Regions from separate parts of the Homo sapiens genome. Here region 2 is linked to region 1. Evidence: fine-mapped expression QTL. A gene starts in region 1. The other region holds a variant in brackets. All regions are shown on one strand. Distances are between the middles of the regions.

What was found.
Region 2: its variant is fine-mapped to the expression of CDC25A in whole blood (TOPMed, PIP 0.91).

Annotation. Positions count from the first base shown.
Region 1 is chr3:48,183,669-48,193,873 of GRCh38, reverse strand. It overlaps CDC25A (cell division cycle 25A), which reads left to right and starts at 5,457. Exons shown (of 15, transcript NM_001789.3): 1 at 5,457-6,096; 2 at 7,095-7,171; 3 at 9,179-9,221; 4 at 10,038-10,074. The coding sequence starts at 5,927. RefSeq lists a silencer at 5,791-6,000 and an enhancer at 5,744-6,372.
Region 2 is chr3:47,593,169-47,603,373 of GRCh38, reverse strand. All of the region lies in intron 26 of SMARCC1 (SWI/SNF related BAF chromatin remodeling complex subunit C1), which reads left to right. LOC124906234 (a long non-coding RNA gene) reads right to left here and starts at 3,151. Exons shown (of 3, transcript XR_007095902.1): 1 at 3,091-3,151. The variant A/G (reference allele first, on the strand shown) is at 5,098.

The DNA.
Region 1 (10,205 bases):
ACCCCATCTCTACTAAAAATACAAAATTAGCCAGGCGTGGTGGCGGACACCTGTAATCCCAGCTACTCGGGAGGCTGAGGCAGGAGAATCACTTGAACCTGGGAGGTGGGAGGCGGAGGTTGCAGTGAATTAAGATTGCCACACTCCAGCCCGGGCGACAGAGTGAGACTCCATCTCAAAAAAAAAAAAAAGCCACTTCCATGGAGTGGGGAAAATCAATGTCTGATGACAGTGGGTCCAAGAGAAAATGTGAGGAGAGAAATTAGAGACAACTTTTTTGAGGAGTTTTACTGTGTTTTGTTTTTTGGGTTTTTTTTTTTTTTGAGAGGGAGTCTTGCTCTGTCTTTCAGGCTGGAGTGCAGTGTCCTGATCTCTGCTCACTGCAATCTCTGCCTCCCGGCTCAAGCAATTCTCCTGCCTCAGCCTCCTGAGTAGCTGGGATTACAGGCGCCCACCACCATGCCTGGCTAATTTTTGTATTTTTAGTAGAGATGGGGCTTTCTTTTCTTTTTTTTTTTTTTTTTTGAGAGGGAGTCTCGCACTGTCACCCAGGCTGGAGTGCAGTAGTGCCATCTCCACTCACTTCAACCACCGCTTCCCAGGTTCAAGCAATTCTCTTGCCTCAGCCTCCCAAGTAGCTGGGATTACAGGTGCCCACCACCACGCACCACTAATTTTTTGTATTTTTAGTAGAGATGGGGTTTCACTATGTTAGCCAGGCTGGTCTTGAACTCCTGACCTCATGATCCACCCATCTCGGTTTCCCAAAGTGCTGGGATTACAGGCGTGAGCCACCATGCCCGGCCAAGATGGTGTTTCACCGTGTTGGCCAGGCTGGTTTTGAACTCCTGACCTCGGCCTCCCAAAGTGCCGGGATTACAGGTGTGAGTCACTGTGCCCGGCCAGGAGTTTTACTGTGAAGGGAAGGAATGAATATAGTTGGAGGGGAAAGTGGCATCAAGGAAAGGCTTTTTATCACTAATAATAAACATTTCATTGAAATACACCATTCATACAGAACAGCTAACAAATCTTGAGTGTGTAGCTCAATGAATTTCCACAAGGTGAACACACTCAGGTAACCAGCACCCAGATCAAGAAATGGAAAGTGGCCAGGTGCAGTGGCTCATGCATATAATGCTAACACTTTGGGAGTCCAAGACGGGAGGATCGCTTGAGCTCGAGAGTTTGAGACCAGCCTGGGCATCATAGTTAGACTCCCGTCTCTAAAATTATACATATATTTTTTTCTGAGACAGAGTCTTGCTCTGTTGCCCAGGCTGGAGTGCAATGGCATGATCTCAGTTCACTGTAACCTCCGCCTCCTGGGTTCAAGTGATTCTACTGCCTCAGTCTCCCAAGTAGCTGGGATTACAGGCGTGTGCCACCACACCCGGCTAATTTTTTGTATTTTTAGTAGAGACGGAGTTTTGCCATGTTGGCCACACTGGTCTCGAACTCCTGACCTCATGATCCACCCACCTCGGTTTCCCAAGGTGCTGGGATTACAGGCGTGAGCCACCATGCCCAGCCAAAATAAAAAATAAAATTTTTAATTAGCTAGGTTTATGGGTGCATGCCTGTAGTTCAGGCTACTCAGGAAGCTGAGGTGGGAGGATCACTTGAACCCAGAAGTTCGAGGCTATAGTGAGCCATGATCATGTCACTGCACTCCAACCTGGGCCACAGAGCAAGACTCTGTCTCAAAAAGTGAAAAATAAATAAGAAACAGAATATGACCAGTTGCCAATATCCCCTTCATGGCCCCTTGCAGTCACCACCATCTTTCTGAAAGGTAACTAGTACCATAACTAACTTTTTTTTTTTTTGAGACGGAGTCTCGCCCTGTCACCCAGGCTGGAGTGCAGTGGCTCAATCTCGGTTCACTGCAACCTCCACCTCCTGGGTTCAAGCAATTCTCATGCCTCAGCCTCCATAGTAGCTGGGATTACAGTTGTGCACCACCATACATGGCTAATTTTTGTGTATGTATATATGTGTGTATATATATGTTTGTGTATATTACATGTGTGTATATATGTATATTACATATGTGTGTATATATGTATATATACATATATATGTATATGTATATATACATATATATGTATATGTATATATACATATATATGTATATGTATGTACACATATATATGTATATTATGTATATATACACATGTATGTATATTATGTATATATACACACATATATGTGTGTGTGTGTATATATATATATATTTTTTTTTAGTAGAGATGAGGTTTCACTATGTTGGCCAGGCTGGTCTCGAACTCCTGGCCTCAAGTGATTCGCCTGCCTCAGCCTCCCAAAGTGCTGGGATTACAGGTGTGAGCCAGACCTAAACAGCATGTTCTCTTTTGTGTCTTCCTTCTTATGTTTGACATTGATGTGAGATTCACTCCTACTGTGGGTAGCGCTTCTGTCCTTTTCATCACTGTATAAAATAACTTTGTTCTATTTACCCATTTTATTGTTGATGGGCATTAGGGTTGCTTTCTGTTTGGAGCTAAAATGATTAACATGGCCATGAATATTTGTGTACATGCATTTTGGCACACTTGAACTGTATTGTAGCTTCTGTGCCAACTTTTCCCTTCCCATGGCCTTCTGTGGCCACCTCCTCGCCTTCCTACATGATTTCCATAGTTGCCTGTGACCTCATTCTGGCCACCTTCAGTGACTCTCCTGGGTGCACCTCTGAACTATGGACTCGGCTACTCCCTTGTGGTTTCTATCTCAGCCCCAGCTTTGCGGTCCTGTCTCACTACATCAAGTCCTCAATGCTGGTGCTCCCCAGATCCAGGGTCCTAAAAACCCTTTGTACATCCTCAATGGGCATTACCATCTTCATGCTAATCAACACCAAATCTGCCTCCTGACTACACCCCCCAGCCAGTCCACCAGCACAAAACTGAGCTCATCAAATTCCTCCAAGAAGTATGCCTCCAATTGTTGAAATGTTACATCCACCCAGGTACTTGAATCATTACCTAAGAATCATTCTAGCCTCCTCCCTTCCCTCTAGCCCCCTACAATCTTAACTCTCAATTATCAAAATCTGATGAGATCTACCTCCTTCAGGGCTCACAGAATCATTCCCTTCCTTTGTCTCCAAGGCCCCCACCTTGCTTCAGAATCTCCCAGACTTTTGAGACAGCCACCTCCTTTTTCCTCAGGCCTCCCCACTCTCCTCCACTGATCCACCCTAAAGCAAATCTGATCCGGTTATCACACACCCTCCACTGTCCACAGGATAAGGCCAAACTCTTCAGCAAACTCCAATCCTTTCAAGAACTGTCCCTCACAGCCAGTCCCATGTGCCCATTCTAGAACCGACTGGATCAACTCAGGAGTAGCTCCCGGCAAGTACGGCGTTCCTCCTCACCTCCTGGCTGCCGAGGGCCGTTTCCTTAGAAAGCACTTCCCACCAGCCCCAAGCTCCCCTTCTCCAGCAACCTTGACCTTTAGTTTTAATCTCCTTTAGGACGTGCCCCCCACCGTACTGCCTTCCCCAGTCCCCGCCCCTCCTCTAGGTGCCCACCATCCCTCCACAAACCACAGCTATTGTCATGGTAATAATTCCATTATTAGAAGGAGCTTTATGCTCAGCGGACCAGAGCTCCCTGAGAGCAGGGATTGTGGTATTATTTCAAGCACTGAATTTGTTCTAGTAATCCTTAAATAAACATATGTTGAATGAATGAATGCAGTAACAGGAATGTTGAGCCAAGTTTTGTTTTTGTTTTTTGAGACGGAGTCTCGCTCTGTTGCCCAGGCTGGAGTGCAGTGGCTCGGTCTTGGCTCACTGCAAGCTCCGCCTCCCGAGTTCAGCCATTCTTCTGCCTCAGCCTCCCGAGTAGCTGGGACTACAGGCGCCCGCCACCACGCCCGGTAATTTTTTGTATTTTTAGTAGAGCCGGGGTTTCACCATGTTAGCCAGGATGGTCTCGATCTCCTGACCCCGTGATCCGCCCGCCTCGGTCTCCCAAAGTGCTGGGATTACAGGCGTGAGCCACCGCTCCCGGCCTGTTGAGCCAAGTATTAAACCACATAAAACACAGGAGGAGAGGAAAGTATTCAGAGATACGACAGGGAGAACTATTTGAAACAGTGGGACCACAGACCATGTGAACTGTGCAGAGAGGCCTAAATAGCCTGGGGTTTCTGGAGGGAAGGGAGGTTCCTGGGTGGTGGAGCACTGGTGCACAGAAAAGGAGATGAATCCTGAGAGAGAGGTTCCTCACTGTGAAGGGTCTGGTGTTGGGGCCAAAGGTTTGGGGTTTCCACCTGTCCAGCATGGCTTTTCAAACTGTAGGGTTTTTTTTTTTTGAGTGGGGGGCAGGGGGTGTCTCACTTTGTTGCCCAGGCTGGTCTCAAATTCGTGGGCTCAGGCAATCCTCCCACCTCGCCCTCCCAAAGTGCTGGGATGATAGGCGTGAGCCACTAAGCCCAGCAGTAGGTTGCAATTAAATCATGCACTTATGGCCCTCAAAATCCGTCTAGGAGCTGCCACAGGTTCGGCGCTGTAAAAGTAAATATGCCCACTTAGAAAATGGGGATAATTCCTATGTCACAGAGTTGTAAAGATTAAATGAATTAATACAGATTAACACACTGGGAACAGTGTCAAGTGCATAAGCATTATGTAAACTTTAGCTATTATTTGCTATTATTGTGTTTGCTGTTATTTCTCTCTAGGAGCTCCCAGGGGGCTAAGAAGTGGTGGGAAAGAAAGAAATGATTCTAAGAGCATCCAATAAGGGCTAGAATGGAAGTGAGCAAAAAATGCTGAGGCCCACAGCACAGGTTGTACTGCGGGGTTCAAATCCCATGAGGCCAGCAGCACCCAGGGTCTGTGAGCCCTCCAGAGTTGGGCCCTGGTGGTCGAGTCCAGTCCTGGGGGTCATTGCATTCCCTCCCTCATTATAAAATGGGGCCTGGAGGCCCGGGGCGGAAGAAAGGGGTCCACAATACTGCACGGTTAGAGGCCGAGCCAAGGCTGGATCCGGCCAGACCTCCACAGGTCTTCCTTAGCCTCCACATTGCCTCAGAGTGTGGGGCGCCCGGCTGGGGGCGAGGTAGCGGAGGCCCAAAGGGGGCCGAAGCTAACTGGACGGCAGCTCGCGATGGGAACTACGCTTCCCAGCATGCGACGGGGCAAAGGGGCCTTTCAGCCGCGAGCAGCGCCTCGCAGGTTCTGCTGGGAGTTTTCATTGACCTCTGCTCCCCCTCTCATTTTGATCCCCGCTCTTCTGCTCTGGGCTCCGCCCCCTTCTGAGAGCCGATGACCTGGCAGAGTCCCGCGAGCCGCTTTCTTCTTCCCCTCTCATTGGCCCAGCCTAGCTGCCATTCGGTTGAGAGGAGGAGAAGTTGCTTACTGATTGGTGGATTCCGTTTGGCGCCAACTAGGAAAGGGGGGCGGGGCAGCAGCTGGCCCCACTGAGCCGCTATTACCGCGAAAGGCCGGCCTGGCTGCGACAGCCTGGGTAAGAGGTGTAGGTCGGCTTGGTTTTCTGCTACCCGGAGCTGGGCAAGCGGGTGGGAGAACAGCGAAGACAGCGTGAGCCTGGGCCGTTGCCTCGAGGCTCTCGCCCGGCTTCTCTTGCCGACCCGCCACGTTTGTTTGGATTTAATCTTCAGGTTGCCGGCGCCCGCCCGCCCGCTGGCCTCGCGGTGTGAGAGGGAAGCACCCGTGCCTGTGGCTGGTGGCTGGCGCCTGGAGGGTCCGCACACCCGCCCGGCCGCGCCGCTTGCCCGCGGCAGCCGCGTCCCTGAACCGCGGAGTCGTGTTTGTGTTTGACCCGCGGGCGCCGGTGGCGCGCGGCCGAGGCCGGTGTCGGCGGGGCGGGGCGGTCGCGGCGGAGGCAGAGGAAGAGGGAGCGGGAGCTCTGCGAGGCCGGGCGCCGCCATGGAACTGGGCCCGGAGCCCCCGCACCGCCGCCGCCTGCTCTTCGCCTGCAGCCCCCCTCCCGCGTCGCAGCCCGTCGTGAAGGCGCTATTTGGCGCTTCAGCCGCCGGGGGACTGTCGCCTGTCACCAACCTGACCGTCACTATGGACCAGCTGCAGGGTCTGGGCAGGTAAGGAGAGACCGGCGGGCGGTGCTCCGGGCCCCTGGCCTCGGTGTCGGCCTCGGAGAGATCAGGCCAGGAAACGGACCGGGAGAAGGGCGAGACCCGTCCGTCCGGGTTCGCCGCTCGGGGACAGCCGGGCTAGGGCCTGCCATGTGCACCCCCGCCCGGGCGGAATGTTGGGCGGGAGAGGCCGTCGGGACCTTCCAGGGGAAGAGGTGGAGATCCTTGGGCCTAAGCCCGAGCCAGGCCCACCTTCACCCCTTTCGGATTGCTCCGTACTCTCCTTCTATCTCTATCCCTGGAAGCTCTTTGGAATCTACCCCCGCGGGGAAAATCAGGCTCTTCTAGGCACTCACTTTCACCCTTTGCTAAACCATCCTCAGGATCTTCGTTTGCTGTGATCTTTGTTCCTTCTCAACAAAGGACCATGGCATTTTCTTTCCTGGCGTTTATGTAAAATCATCTCAGTCCCTCGCCCTGTGCACATTCCTGATGTCCACTCTGCTGCTTTCCTAAGGCCAGGTCTTTTTACCCAACTTTCAGAAAGCTTCCTGGGCTTTTCCTGATAGCAAAAAATGCATCCCACGGTGTTTCCCGCGGAAGAGCTACTTTCCCTTCAATCTCTGGCATCCCGTTTGCTAAGCACATGTCTTGTGCGTTTCCCAACTTCTGAAAAGCAGAAAGTGTCCTGTTCAACTTTCATCCCGACTCTGTCTCAGTACTTAGAACACATGCTTTTATTTTAGGAAATACCCCAACATTTGCCATAGCCATCATAACCTGCAATGTGGTCCAAGGCCATGCCCACCCACTCCTTTTTTCTCCTTTGCCCAAGTGCTAATTGGGTGTTCAGAGTGGCAAAGTGGGATCTTTGCCACTTGTGGTGTGGCCTAGAAATGGTTTCTGGCAGCCTGGCTGCTTCTTAATCTCATGGCCTATCTCCTGCATGTGACCTTTTAATTATATCCTATAAATCATTCATGGTTTATTTCTGTTGGTTTCAGTGATTATGAGCAACCACTGGAGGTGAAGAACAACAGTAATCTGCAGAGAATGGGCTCCTCCGAGTCAACAGATTCAGGTATTTAAGTCTGCTGTGTGGGGAGCAATACTCTGAATTTCCTGAAACATGCCTTTTCACCCAGGAGGTTAGTTTTGGTGAGAACTTGAGGAAGTCATGGCATTGGGTGATAAACTTTTTTTTTTTTTTTTTTGAGACAGAGTTTCGCTCTTGTCGCCCAGGCTGGAGTGCAATGGCATGATCTCAGCTCACTGTAACCTCCACCTCCCGGGTTCAAGTGATTCTCCTGCCTCAGCCTCCCGAGTAGCTGGGATTACAGGCATGCACCACCACACCCGGCTAATTTTGTATTTTTTAGTAGAGACAGGGTTTCTTCATGTTGGTCAGCCTGGTCTCGAATTCACAACCTCAGGTGATCCGCCTTCCTCGGCCTCCCAAAGTGCTGGGATTACAGCGTGAGCCACCGCGCCCGGTGATAAACATTATTGAGAACAATACAAAGGAGCCCTTGTGGCTGTTTATGAAGAAAGGAAATAGGTTTCAAATGTCTATAAGGAGGTGGTGTGTGCTTGCCCTTGAAGGATGGGTAGTAAAGTATAATTCACCATACCACTGTAAGTGGCATTCAGGCAATCTTACTGGTTAAAATACAGGATCAAATGATTGGAAGTACAGTGTCATGAAATCATTTCAGTGATGCTGCTATGGAGGAAATTGCCAGTGCATTTCATTCTTCATGAATTCATATTACTGCAGAGTTTATCTGTATTTGTACAGATAAGACCATTGGTGCAAAGATCCTTTAGGTTAAAGGAACTGCAAGAGCAAGTCTTAAAATGTAATGTAGGCTTCTGTATGTAGAATGTAATTTAATATAGAACTGGGGATAGGATTATCACTTGTAGCAGTGTGGTGAGCAAGGGCTGTAACACCTCACTTTCCATAAGGCTGTATAGACACATGAGCTATGGGTGGGTGGGTCTGCGTCATCTGAGCTGGCATATTAGTAATGCTGAACAGTGTCTCCTTCACCCTGCTGCCTTTTGTGAGATGGACACCTTGGTGTCATTTTGTTAAAGGCAGCAAGTGCTTGCCTTGCATGTCATGACCAGTAGTTGTATTTTTCTTTTTCATTTTGAGACAAGGTCTCAACTCTGTCACCCAGGCAACTCTGCCTCCCAGATTTAGAGAATTCTTCTGCCTCAGCTTCCCTAGTAGCTGGAATTACAGGTGTGGGTCTCAAACTTCTGATCTCAGGTGATCCACCCACTTCGACCTCCCAAAGTGCTGAGATTACAGGGGTGAGCTACTGCACCTGGCCTTTTTTTTTTTTTTTTTTTGAGACAGGGTCTTGCTCTGTTTTCCAGGTCTCAGGCTGGTGTACAGTGGCACAATCAGGGTTCACTGTAGCTTCAACTTTCCGAGCTCAAGCGAACCTCCCACTCCAGCCTCCCCAAGTAGCTGGGACTACAGACACGTGCCACCACACCCAACTAATTTTTTTTTTAACTTTGGTAGAGTCAAGTCTCACTATGTTGCCCCAGGCTTGTTTTGAACTTGTGGCCTCAAGCCATCAGCCTGCCTCAGCCTCCCAAAGTATTGGAATCACAGGTGTGAGCCACTGTGCCTGGTCAGTAGTTGTATTTTTCAAGCCTCATATGATTTGACAAGGTAAAACGTTTAAAAACTATGCCAAGAAAATCTGGTACCTATTGTTTCTATGGTTGGAACTCACAGAAAGTTATCTGGGTCACCTCTATCTGAATAACCAAACAATCATGATATGAATCAGTTTTATTCACCCTCTTCTCAAATCCTATTTCCCTTGATGTTATTTGCAAATAGGAGAAAAAACAGTAAATACGCTATGAAAATATTAAGACTTGTACAAACATGACATTTTTGACAATCTAATAGACGTAACATCAATTCTGGCAAAAGTACAAGCCATGAATATTTGTTGCCTGACTTAAATAAAGACCCAGGTACTTTGTTTAGTGTTTTAATTTTAATGACAAAATGGTGTTTTTTGTATTATTTCTTGAGAGGTTTTTTTTTTCCCCATAGGTTTCTGTCTAGATTCTCCTGGGCCATTGGACAGTAAAGAAAAGTATGTATTCACTGCTTTCAAATGTTTATATGTAGAAAAAACGTGTCTAAACTTAAATACCTTATTTAAATGAAGTTCTTCATACACTGGACTGGAGCCCTGGATTTACCTGTGCCTAGAAACACTCTGGAATCTCAAGAATGAATAGTTTGTGTCAGCAATTTTCAGAACTTTTTCTCCTTTATTTTAGCTATAATTTTGGTGTTCTGTTTGGGTCTTACCCAAACCCTTACTCTGTGCTCTGACATCATAGCCTTACAAGAACATGTGGGGTTTTTTTGTTTGTTTGTTTGTTTGTTTCTGAGGCAGAGTCTCACTCTGCCGCCCAGGCTAGAGTGCAGTGGCTCACTGCAACCTCCACCTCCCAGGTTCAACTGATTCTCCTGCCTCAGCCTCCCGAGTAGCTGGGACTACAGGAGTGCACCACCACACCCGGTTAATTTTTGTATTTTTAGTAGACACGAGGTTTCATCGTGTTGGCCAGGCCAGGAGTTCGAGACTCCTGACCTCGTGATATACCCTCCTCGGCCTCCCATAGTGCCCATAGTGCTGGGATTACATGTGTGAGCCACCGCGCCCAGCCGAATGTGTGTATTTTAAGAAAAGACATGGGTTTGTTTTTTTTCACCTAGAAGTCTAGTGTTGGGGGTGCTCCTGAGAACAGGACAGCTTCAGAAATTTATTCTCCCATCTCTTGCCTAAAATGGGAGTCTGTGACTGTACCCCCAAGCTACAGGCTAAACACTATCTCTCTGCTAATATGAATACCTCTTTACTTGTTTTATTCTCATTATTTACCTTCTGATCTCATTACAGCCTTGAAAATCCTATGAGAAGAATACATTCCCTACCTGTAAGTTAGTTCCTTGTTTATTTTGAGCTAATACCTGTTATCTGTTCCTTAGCTACCAGCATGACCTTGATAGGAGACTTAATTTAGAGAGTAAAAACTGCTTTTCTTTAGTCTCTTTTGAGACAAGGTCT
Region 2 (10,205 bases), 590 kb after region 1:
CTTGGCTCACCTCAACCTCTACCTCCCAGGTTAAAGCAATTCTCCTGCCTCAGTCTCCCGAGTAGCTGGGATTACAGGCACCTGCCACCATGCCTAGCTAATTTTTTTATTTTTGGTAGAGACAGGGTTTCACCATGTTGGCCAGGCTGGTCTTGAGCTCCTGACCTCAGGTGATCCACCCGCCTCAGCCTCCCAAAGTGCTGGGATTACAGGTGTGAGCCACTGCACCCGGCGGGATCTCCTTTAAGTTGAGATGGTCAGGACTGTAGGAACTTCAGCACATGTTTAAAGGAAGATTACCTATCATTAAGTTAGAAGGAAATGACAGAAATCTAGTGTATAATTACAGTGGTAAGCTCTGCTCTCCATAGGCATGGATGTATTTTAGTAGAGACAAGGTCTCACTATGTTGCCCAGGTTGGTCTCAAACTCTTGAGCTCACGCGATCCTCTCGCCTTGGCCTCCCAAAGTGCTGGGACTATAGGATTGAGCCACTAGGCCCAGCCCGTCCTAGGCATTTGTAATAAATGAGGCACTCTTGAACATTCCTGCCTCATGGATCTTAAGTCAGCTGCCTGCACTGGGGAAGCCTTCGTGTGTACTCTATGTGTGAAAGCAGAAGGAAAGAACATGTTTGATTTAAATATTTTCATTGTTTCCTCATTATTAATAGTGGAAGAATTTTTGGAAGTGCCTTGAAAATCAGAATAGAATTGGTCTGATTTGATGAGAACTCAGACATAATACAATGGTATTCTAATGTTAAAACTAGAATGGGCTGGAAATGATGGCTTACGCCTGTAATCCCAGCACTTTGGGAGGCCAAGGCAGGCAGATTGCTTGAGCTCAGGAGTTCGAGACCAACCTGGGCAACATGGTGAAACCCTCTCTCTACAAAAATAAAAAAAATTTGCTTGGTGTGGTGGCGTGTGCCTGTGGTCCCAACTACTTGGGAGGCTGAGGCAGAAGGATCACTTGATCCCAGGAGGTCAAGGCTGCATTTAGCCAAGATTGTGCCACCGCACTCCAGCCTGGGCGATAGAGCAAGACCCTGTCTTTTAAAAAAACTGGAACTTTTTTTTGAGACAGGGTTTTGCTGTGTCGCCCAGCCTGGAGTACAGTGGTGCAGTCATGGCCCACTGCAGCCTCGAATTCCTGGGCTCAAGCAATCCTCTCACCTCAGCCACCTGAGTAGCTGGGACTTACAGGCATGTGCTACCACACCCAGCTACAGTTGGCTTTTTAAGCCCCTCACACCTACTTACACAACCCTACCTCATGAGAAATAAAGCTCAGGAAAGGATTACAACCAATCACCACTTTCTAACCCACCCCTGGACTCAACCCCACACCGAAAAAGAAAAGCAATAGCCTGGCCGGGCATGGTGGCTCATGCCTGTAATCCTAGCACTTTGGGAAGCCGAGGTGGGTGGATCACCTGAGGTCAGGAATTCAAGACCAGCCTGGGCAACATGGCAAAACCCCACCTCTACTAAAAGTACAAAAATTAGCCGGGTGTGGTGGCAGGCAACTGTAATCCTAGCTACTCAGGAGGCTGAGGCAGGAGAATCGCTTGAACCCAGGAGGCAGAGGTTGCAGTGAGCCGAGTTCACACCACTGCACCACTCCAGCCTGGGCGACAAGAGTGAGACTCCATCTCAAAAAAAAAAAAAAAGAAAAAAAAAGCCGTAGCCCATCACATCAGCCAAGATTTTATTATCTGCGGTGCCTTTGGTCCTACTTACATGCTACTTTCCGGAGTAGCCATGCTACTTTCCGGAGTAGCAGGTTACCCTCACAAAGAGAACAGTGAGGGCCCAGTCTTCAACAAAGAGAGTCTGTCACAGGCATCCCCAGGAAGCTGCTGTGGGGAAGGCACAGTCTCTGAGGAGCCTGGGCTTCCCCTCACTTGGCCCTGATTTTGTTATTTCCATTCTCCAGGAGACTCAGCCAGAGGATGTGCTATAGACAGTTAGAAATGGATTGATGAAATGTGCTCAAGACTGGAAATTCACAGGTTCCCTTTCCTAGATTCACTTTCTTTTCCTACCCTCCTTTCCCAACCCAAAGTATAAAATTAAGGTCCTTTACTAATATTCCATTAAGTGTCATGAGTGTAATGCTTTAGTAAAAGATACAATAAACCTGAGAGAGAATGAGGGATTTTTCTACTAGTTAAACCTAATTTTAGCAAAGCTTTTAATTTTTCAGGCTTCAGATGCCTGCTGTTTAAAAAAAAAAAAGAAAAAAGAAAAGAAAAAAAGCTTGTATGTAGGTCAGACTCCCACCATTCTAAGCTTTTGATACTGCTGTTTTGATGCCATGTCTCTCTCTCTCTCTCTCTCTCTCTCTCTCTCTCTCTCTCTCTCTCTCTCATTTTCTTCCTCTCCCTGTCTGCTGGGAAAAAATACCTGATTTTTTTTTTTTAATGGAAAAGACATACATCCTTTACTTTGTTTGCTAAGGCCTGTTCCTATGCATTTCAGATTTGTGTGGGCCAGATCTCTTAATGTTAGTAAGAATTAATGGAAATGCAGACACTGTTGTTCATTTAAAAGTGGTGAGACCTATATCAGACACCACAAAAACCCATAAAGATGTTTAGACTTCTTAAGGACAAGGGTTGCTTTGTGCGAAATTGATTTTGTCTTCTCCTGAGTCTTCTTAAATTCTACCCCATTTCAGATTTCATCCTTGGAAGTTACCTTTTCTAAGGGGAAAGTTACTCCTTAGAAAGGAAGGTGGGGTAAAGGAAAAGAGAATGGACCTCAGGGTCAGAGAGACCTGGATTTGAATCTCAGCTCAGTCTCTTGTTCATTGTGACTTTGCGCCAAATTACATAGCTTCTCTGAGGCTTAGTTTCCTTATCTCAAAACTAGGCCCTTACCATCATCTTACTAACAACCTGGAGACTTCAGAGAGATAACTGTCAAATCACCTGGCACGGTCAACCCTTACTCAACCTTATTCTTACCTCCTTTCCTGTCTTTTCTCTAAACCCACTGCCCCAGGTACACCAGTGCTGAGTTGCTTAGCATCTGACAGAAGGAACCTCTGAATGGCAAAGGGACATCATTCACTCTTAGGTACCTCTTGCTTTCCTGAGAGATGTTTGTTTTTGCAGGGTGCCATAAGCAGAAGTAAATTGCTTTTCCTCTAGACCTTCATTTTTGCTGCCAAGGAGCCGTTGTCCTCTCATACTCAGAACACCTGTATCCCAGTGGCTTTATGACCTTGTTTGTGACAATAGGATAAAGAATCTTTTTCACAAGGCTTTAGAATTTATAATAAATGAAAAGAAAGGTTTTTTTAGCTGTTGGGCTAACAGCCTTGGAAAACCCTAAAGCTGCCCTATTCCAGCTTGTATTCATAAAGATGTAGGGTAATAGGTAAATGGGCCACTGCCACTGAGCAGATAGCTTTGGAAATAGTACTACTGGGCCTAAGAGCAAGAGCCTGCAGGCATTTCCCAGTGCATGATAGGTAGACATCACTTTGTGGGTGTTTGTCAATCAGCCAGTGATGCTCCTCTTTGCCAGATTATTTCTTGAATAGTTGATTTCTCTGCTGGAACATATATTCTGAATTGCGGGTTCAGAAAGTAATTTCTGTCTGGAGCTGAGCATGGGGCAAATAATGGATCAATCAGTTTGGTGACACCAGGGTTTGCATCACGTCGTCTCTGAGCACCTGTTGGACCCCTCTCCCCCAGACCTTGATTGTCAGGGGTGCACACTGGCTGCAAGCACCATCTCTAGAATCAGAGTACCTGTATCAGATCTGAGCTCCCTCATTTACATGCTTTATGACATTGGGCAAGCTACTTAATCTTTGTGTCCTTCCCTTTCTTCCACAGGGATAATAGTGCCTGGTTTATAGTGTTGTTATGGGGATTGAATGAGTTAACATTTATAAAACTCTTAAATATAGTGCCTAAGGCATAGCACATGTTTCCTACGTAGTTTCCTGAGGCTGCTATAATAACTTTTTTGAGGCAGAGTTTGCTTTTGTCGCTCAGGCTGGAGTGCAGTGGTGTGATCTCTGCTCACTCTAACCTCTACCTCCCGGGTTCAAGTGATTCTCTTGCCTCAGCTTCCCAAGTAGCTGGTATTACAGGCATGTGCACTCCTGGCTAATTGTTGTATTATTAGTAGAGACAGGGTTTCACCATGTTGGCTAGGCTGGTCTCAAACTCCTGACCTCAGGTGATCCGCCCTCCTCAGCCCCCCAAAGTGCTGGGATTATAGGTGTGAGCCACTGCGCACAGCCTGTCAGAATAACTTAAAACAAGAGAAATGTATTCTTACTCTCTGGGAAATCAGGTCCAATATCCAGCAAAGCCATGCTCCTTCCAAGGTATATAGGGAAGAATCCTGTTCCTTGTCTCTTCCAACTTCCGGTGGCTTGCAGCATTCCTTGTCTTACGGCCACGTCTCTCTTTGCTCCATCTTTACATCACCTTCTTCTCTCTCTGTCTTTGTCTCTGTGTGTGTGTGTGTGTGTGTGTGTGTCTCTCTCTCTCTTTTTTTTTTTTTTTTTTTTTTTTTTGAGACAGAGTCCCTCTGTAGCCCAGGCTGGAGTGCAGTGGCGTGATCTCAGCTCACTGCATCCTCCACCTTCCAGGTTCAAACTATCTTCTCCTCAGCCTCCCAAGTAGCTGTGACCACAGGCATATACCACCACACACAGCTGATTTTTATATTTTTAGTAGAGACGAGGTTTCACTATGTTGGCCAGGCTGGTCTTGATCTGCTGACCTCAAGTAATCCACCCACCTCAGCCTCCCAAAGTACTGGGATTACAGGCATGAGCCACTGCACTGGGCCACATACATAGCTTTAATCAATAAAATCTCAGGAAACCAAAGCTCAGGGATTGAGAGAGAGAGGAGGAGACCTGTGAAGGGCGGCAATATGTTCTTCCTAACTTGTTTAAGGCCTCTGTCCAGGTCGGACTTGGTGGAAGCGAGCAACCTGTACCTGTTGATAAACATGGGCAGCATTATTTCTCCTAGTATATGGCTTCCCTTTGTCACAACAAGTCCATTAGGAGTGTTCTTTCGTCTGCAGGCTAGAATATTGTACTTTTTAGTTTTAA[A/G]AGTAGGCCTCCTGTTTCCAGCAGCAACAAAATCATCTCCTGTTGTCCTTCACGCCACCTAGAATACCATTAGAGAATCATTAGTAGTGATTTAGAGTGTGGAAAACAAAGCATTGCTTTTATTAATGGCCTAGCAGGTGATGTGGGGTAGGAAGAGAACAAAAAAAGGGCTTCCAAAAGGGAGCTGGGACAGTACCACCTTAAAAACAAAGGTGCCTCTTTGGCAGTTTGTGGAGAATCTTAGAATAGTAAGTCTCTGTTTGCCACTGCTCTATTTGAAACTCTGGGAGTTCTATACCTTCCCTTCACCGATACCTCTGTATTTCACTATATGGCTGCCCAGCCTACATCTGTTCCCAAAGCAAAAAGTTCTGTGTCCTCTTCACGTCATCCCATCTTCACACTCCCAGCAGTCAGATACCAAACCCAAATTCATTTTCCATCTCAGCTCCATGCTCGCCCTTCCTTCTTGCTCTGTCTCCAATCCCGAGGATGCCTCTTTTTACAGAACCTGTGGCTGGGCACAATAGCTCACACCCATAGTCCCAGCAACTCAGGAGACTGAGTTAGGAGGATCATTGAGCCTAGGAGTTTGAAACCAGCCTGGGCAACATAGCAAGGCCCCATCTCTATAAAAAATTAGCTGGCGTGGGCCGGGCATGGTGGCTCACGCCTGTAATCCCAGCACTTTGGGAGGCCGAGGCAGGCGGATCATGAGGTCAGGAAATCGAGACCATCCTGGCTAACATGGTGAAACCCCATCTCTACTAAAAATACAAAAAATTAGCCGGGCGTGGTGGCGGGTGCCTGTAGTCCTAGCTACTCGGGAGGCTGCGGCAGGAGAATGGCATGAACCCGGGAGGCGGAGATTGCACCACTGCACTCCAGCCTGGGCAACAGAGTGAGACTCCGTCTCAAAAAATTAAAAAATAAAAAATAAAATAAATAAATAAATTAGCTGACGTGGTGGTGCACACCTGTAATCCTAGCTACTCAGGAAGTTGAGGCGGGGGCATCACTTCAACCCAGGAGTTCACTGCTTTAGTGAGCTATGACCATACCACTGTACTCCAGCCTGGGTGACAGAGCAAGACCTCATCTCTCTCTCTTTTTTTTTTTTTTTTTTGAGACTGAGTCTCGCCCTGTCGCCCAGGCTAGAGTGCAGTGACGCAGTCTCAGCTCACTGCAACTCCTGCCTCAGCCTCCTTAGTAGCTGGGATTACAGGTGCGTGCCACCACGCCTGGCTAATTTTTTTATTTTCATCATGTTGGTCAGGCTGGTCTCAAATGCCTGACCTCGTCATCTGCCTGCCTCGGCCTCCCAAAGTGCCGGGATTACAGGCAGGAGCCACCGCCCCTAGCCAAGACCTCATCTCTTTTAAAAAAATAAAATAAAAAAAAAAAGAAGGAACTTGCAGAGTGCCATCTCCATCTCCTATTCCTTTCTGTCTCATCAGCCTGACATTCAGCCCATACTTCTCTGCAAAGGCACTTTTTCTCTGCTCTAGGCACTAACTCCTCTGCATCCCTTCTTAAAGCTTTCTATCCTAGCTGGGCATGGTGGCATGCACCTGTAACCCCAGCTACACAGGAGGCTGAGGCAGGAGAATCACGTGAGCCCAGGAGGTCTAGTCCAGCCTGGGCAACGTAGCAAGACCCCATCTTTTTTCTTCTTCTTCTTCTTATTTATTTATTTATTTTTTTTTTTTTGAGACGGAGTCTGACTCTGTCACCCAGGCTGGAGTGCAGTGGCATGATCTCGGCTCACTGCAACCTCCGCCTCCCACGTTCAAGCAATTCCCTGCCTCAGCCTCCCGAGTAGCTAGGATTACAGGTGCCCACCATCACACCCAGCTGATTTTTGTATTTTTAGTAGAGATGGGGTTTCACCATCTTGGCCGGGCTGGTCTTGAACTCCTGACCTCTTGATCCACCTGCCTTGCCCTCCCAAAGTGCTGGGATTATAGGCGTGAGCCACCACGCCCAGCCAAGACTCCATCTCTTAAACATTTTCTAAAAAATTGCTTTCCATCCCACAGAAAATTAGGTTCAAGCTTCTCTTCTTTTCAGAACCTTTCACTAAGTCCTCTGTAGCCTTACTTTTGAAGTCCTCACCCCTTGTTCTACATGCATGACTCCTTTTTGAATTAATATAGCCCTTTTTCCTTTGAATCATGACAGACCCAGCAGTTTTGTTTTGTTTTGTTTTTGTTTTTGTTTTTGGGAAAGAAAAAAAAAAAACCTGGCCGGGTTTGGTAGCTCACACCTGTAATCCCAGCACTTTGGGAGGCCAAAGCAGGCAGATCACGAGGTCAAGAGATTGAGACCTTCCTAGCCAACATTGTGAAACTCGGTCTCTACTAAAAATAAAAAAATTAGCTGGGCGTGGTGGCACGTGCCTGTAGTTTCAGCTATTCGGGAGGCTGAGGCAGGAGACTCACCTGAACCAGGGAGGCAGAGGTTGCAGTGAGTCGAGATCGCCCCACTGCACTCCAGCCTGGGCAACAGAGTGAGACTCCCGTCTCAAAAAAAAAGAAAAAGAAAAAGAAACCTTTATAAGCCTCGGTGTAATACAGATGAAAGATAGTAAGGTACCACAAAAGGGTATGGTATTTATATAGATGCTGCATATAAATGGTACCTCTCAGTAATAATGGGAGTGACATTAACATTATTTTCTGATTGTTTTAACTTAGGCTTGGCTGTGTGTTTATTTTATTTTATTTTATTTTATTTATTTATTTATTTTGAGACGGAATTTCACTCTTGTTGCCCAGGCTGGAGTGCAATGGCTCATTCTCGGCTCACTGCAACCTCCACCTCTCCGGTTCAAGCGATTCTCCTGCCTCAGCCTCCCGAGTAGCTGGGATTACAGGTGCCCACCACCGCATCTCGCTAATTTTTTTGTATTTTTAGTAGAGATGGGGTTTCAACATGTTAGCCAGGCTGGTCTCGAACTCCTGACCTCAGGTGATCTCGCCTCGGCCTCCCAAAGTACTGGGATTACAGGCGTGAGCCATCGCGCCCGCTTGGCCATGTGTTTAAAAAAAATTTTTTTTAACCCGTACACAAACTTTCCTAGCAGATTATTCATAGTAGCCAAAAAGTGAGAACCGCCAGATGTCCTCTTCAGGCTGTGTGGTCCATCCACAGCAGGGAGCACCACCCAGCACTGAGAGGAACAGCCTGTGGCTGCATACAGAACCGGTGACTCTCCAGGAAATTACCTGGAGTGAAAAAAAACCAATCCCAAAATGTTGCAAACGGTGCTTCCACTTATGTAACATTCCTGCAACAACAGGTCAGAGATGGAGAATAGAGGAGTGGCAGCAGGAGTCAGGATGGGTTGTAGGGATGTAGGTATGCAGATCTTATCAAGGTCTACCTGCTGTGCTGCAGCATATCCCCTGGGGGTGGGCCAAGGCACCCAGGATTTCTATTATTTCTTACTGGTTTGTGGATCTACAAGCATGTGGCCTCACAGTCCCGCCACAAGGATGCCTGAGTCCTTGGGTCCCTGCTGTCCCAGGTGTTTTTAGGATTAGTCCTATCCCTAATCCCTTTCCTTCACTTTACTTACATCTCATCCACAATTCCAAGTTACTCACAAATTTTTATTGATCAGCTGGAAAGTCTTCATTTTTTTTGGCTTGCTCCTTCCATAGTTTTTCCTTGGTTTGCCTTTCACTCCTTTATGTGCACTCATCCCTCGTATGCCTTTAGTGTTCTTGCCATTTGTCCCTTTTATCCTGAATCAGTCCCTAGATTGGCAGACTCTTCAACACTGCCTATTTCTGTCCTAGATACACGGCACAAGCACAAAAAGACAAAAATTAATGATGGTCAGTTGGTCCTAGTCGCAGTGTTCACATAGGAGTAGATCCAGCAGCTGCTCTTGATTTTGCCAAAGTGATTTGACCAAGTTATTTTCCAGCAAGCGGATCTCTGAGACTCCTCTGCTAGGCTTTGCGTTACATTATAGAGTGCAGAAAGATGGGCCACAGGGCCCAAAATTCTCTATTATGTACATTCTGGGTCATAATGTTGATGTACTTTGCTTTAAAAAGTAGTCCCTAGAAGACTGGACTACCCTAATTCCTATTTTTTTTTTTTTTTGGAGTTTCATTCTTGTTGCCCAGGCTAGGGTGTAATGGTGCAATCTTGGCTCACTGCAACCTCCACCTCCCGGGTTCAAGCAGTTCTCCTGCCTCAGCCTCTCAAGTAGCTGAGATTACAGGTGCATGCCACTAAGCCCAGCTAATTTTTGTATTTTTAGTAGAAATGGGGTTTCACCATGTTGGTCAGGCTGGTCACGAACTCCTGACCTCAGGTGATCCACCCACCTTGGCCTCGCAAAGTGCTGGGAATACAGGTGTGAGCCACTGTGCCCAGCCCCTTATTCCTAATTCTCATACCTCATTGTAGTTCTCTTCATTGACACCCCTGAAGTAAGGGGCTCCTCTCTCAGGTTCTTAGATCAAGGAACAGCCACTGGAGATAGGCAGGGTGTGGTTTGAAGCTTTGTATGTCTTTGTTTAGATAGACCTCTTTCTATAGTGACAGAGAGTCTGTATTTGAATTATCTTCAGTACTGCTTTGTGTATTGTAATTTGGTCCAATCTCCAAATTTTTCAAGATTAAGCATTCTTATTTCTAGCTGTCTCAGTACTGTCTTCTAACCTATATTCAGTTTCATAGTTGTCCTTACATAGATAGTAAAGTCCCTAGATTTAAAGAAAAACTACATTGATTCTCTTTTTCTTATTCTGTAGAGAATATAATTTGTCCTACATAAAAAAATTTCAGGCCAGGCGCGGTGGCTCACGCCTGTAATCCCAGCACTTTGGGCGGCCGAGGCGGGCAGATCACTTGAGGTCAGGAGTTCAATACCAGCCTGGGCAACATGGTGCAACGCTGTCTCTACAGAAAATGCAAAAATTATCCGGGTATGGTGGCGCACACCTGTAATCCCGGGTACTCGGGCGGCTGAGGCAGAAGAATTGCTTGAACCCAGGAGGCGGAGGTTGCAGTGAGCCAGGATCGCGACACAGCGAGATTCTGTCTCAAAAAAGAAAAAAAAAAAATTAAAGCCTTGATTGTTTCCATTA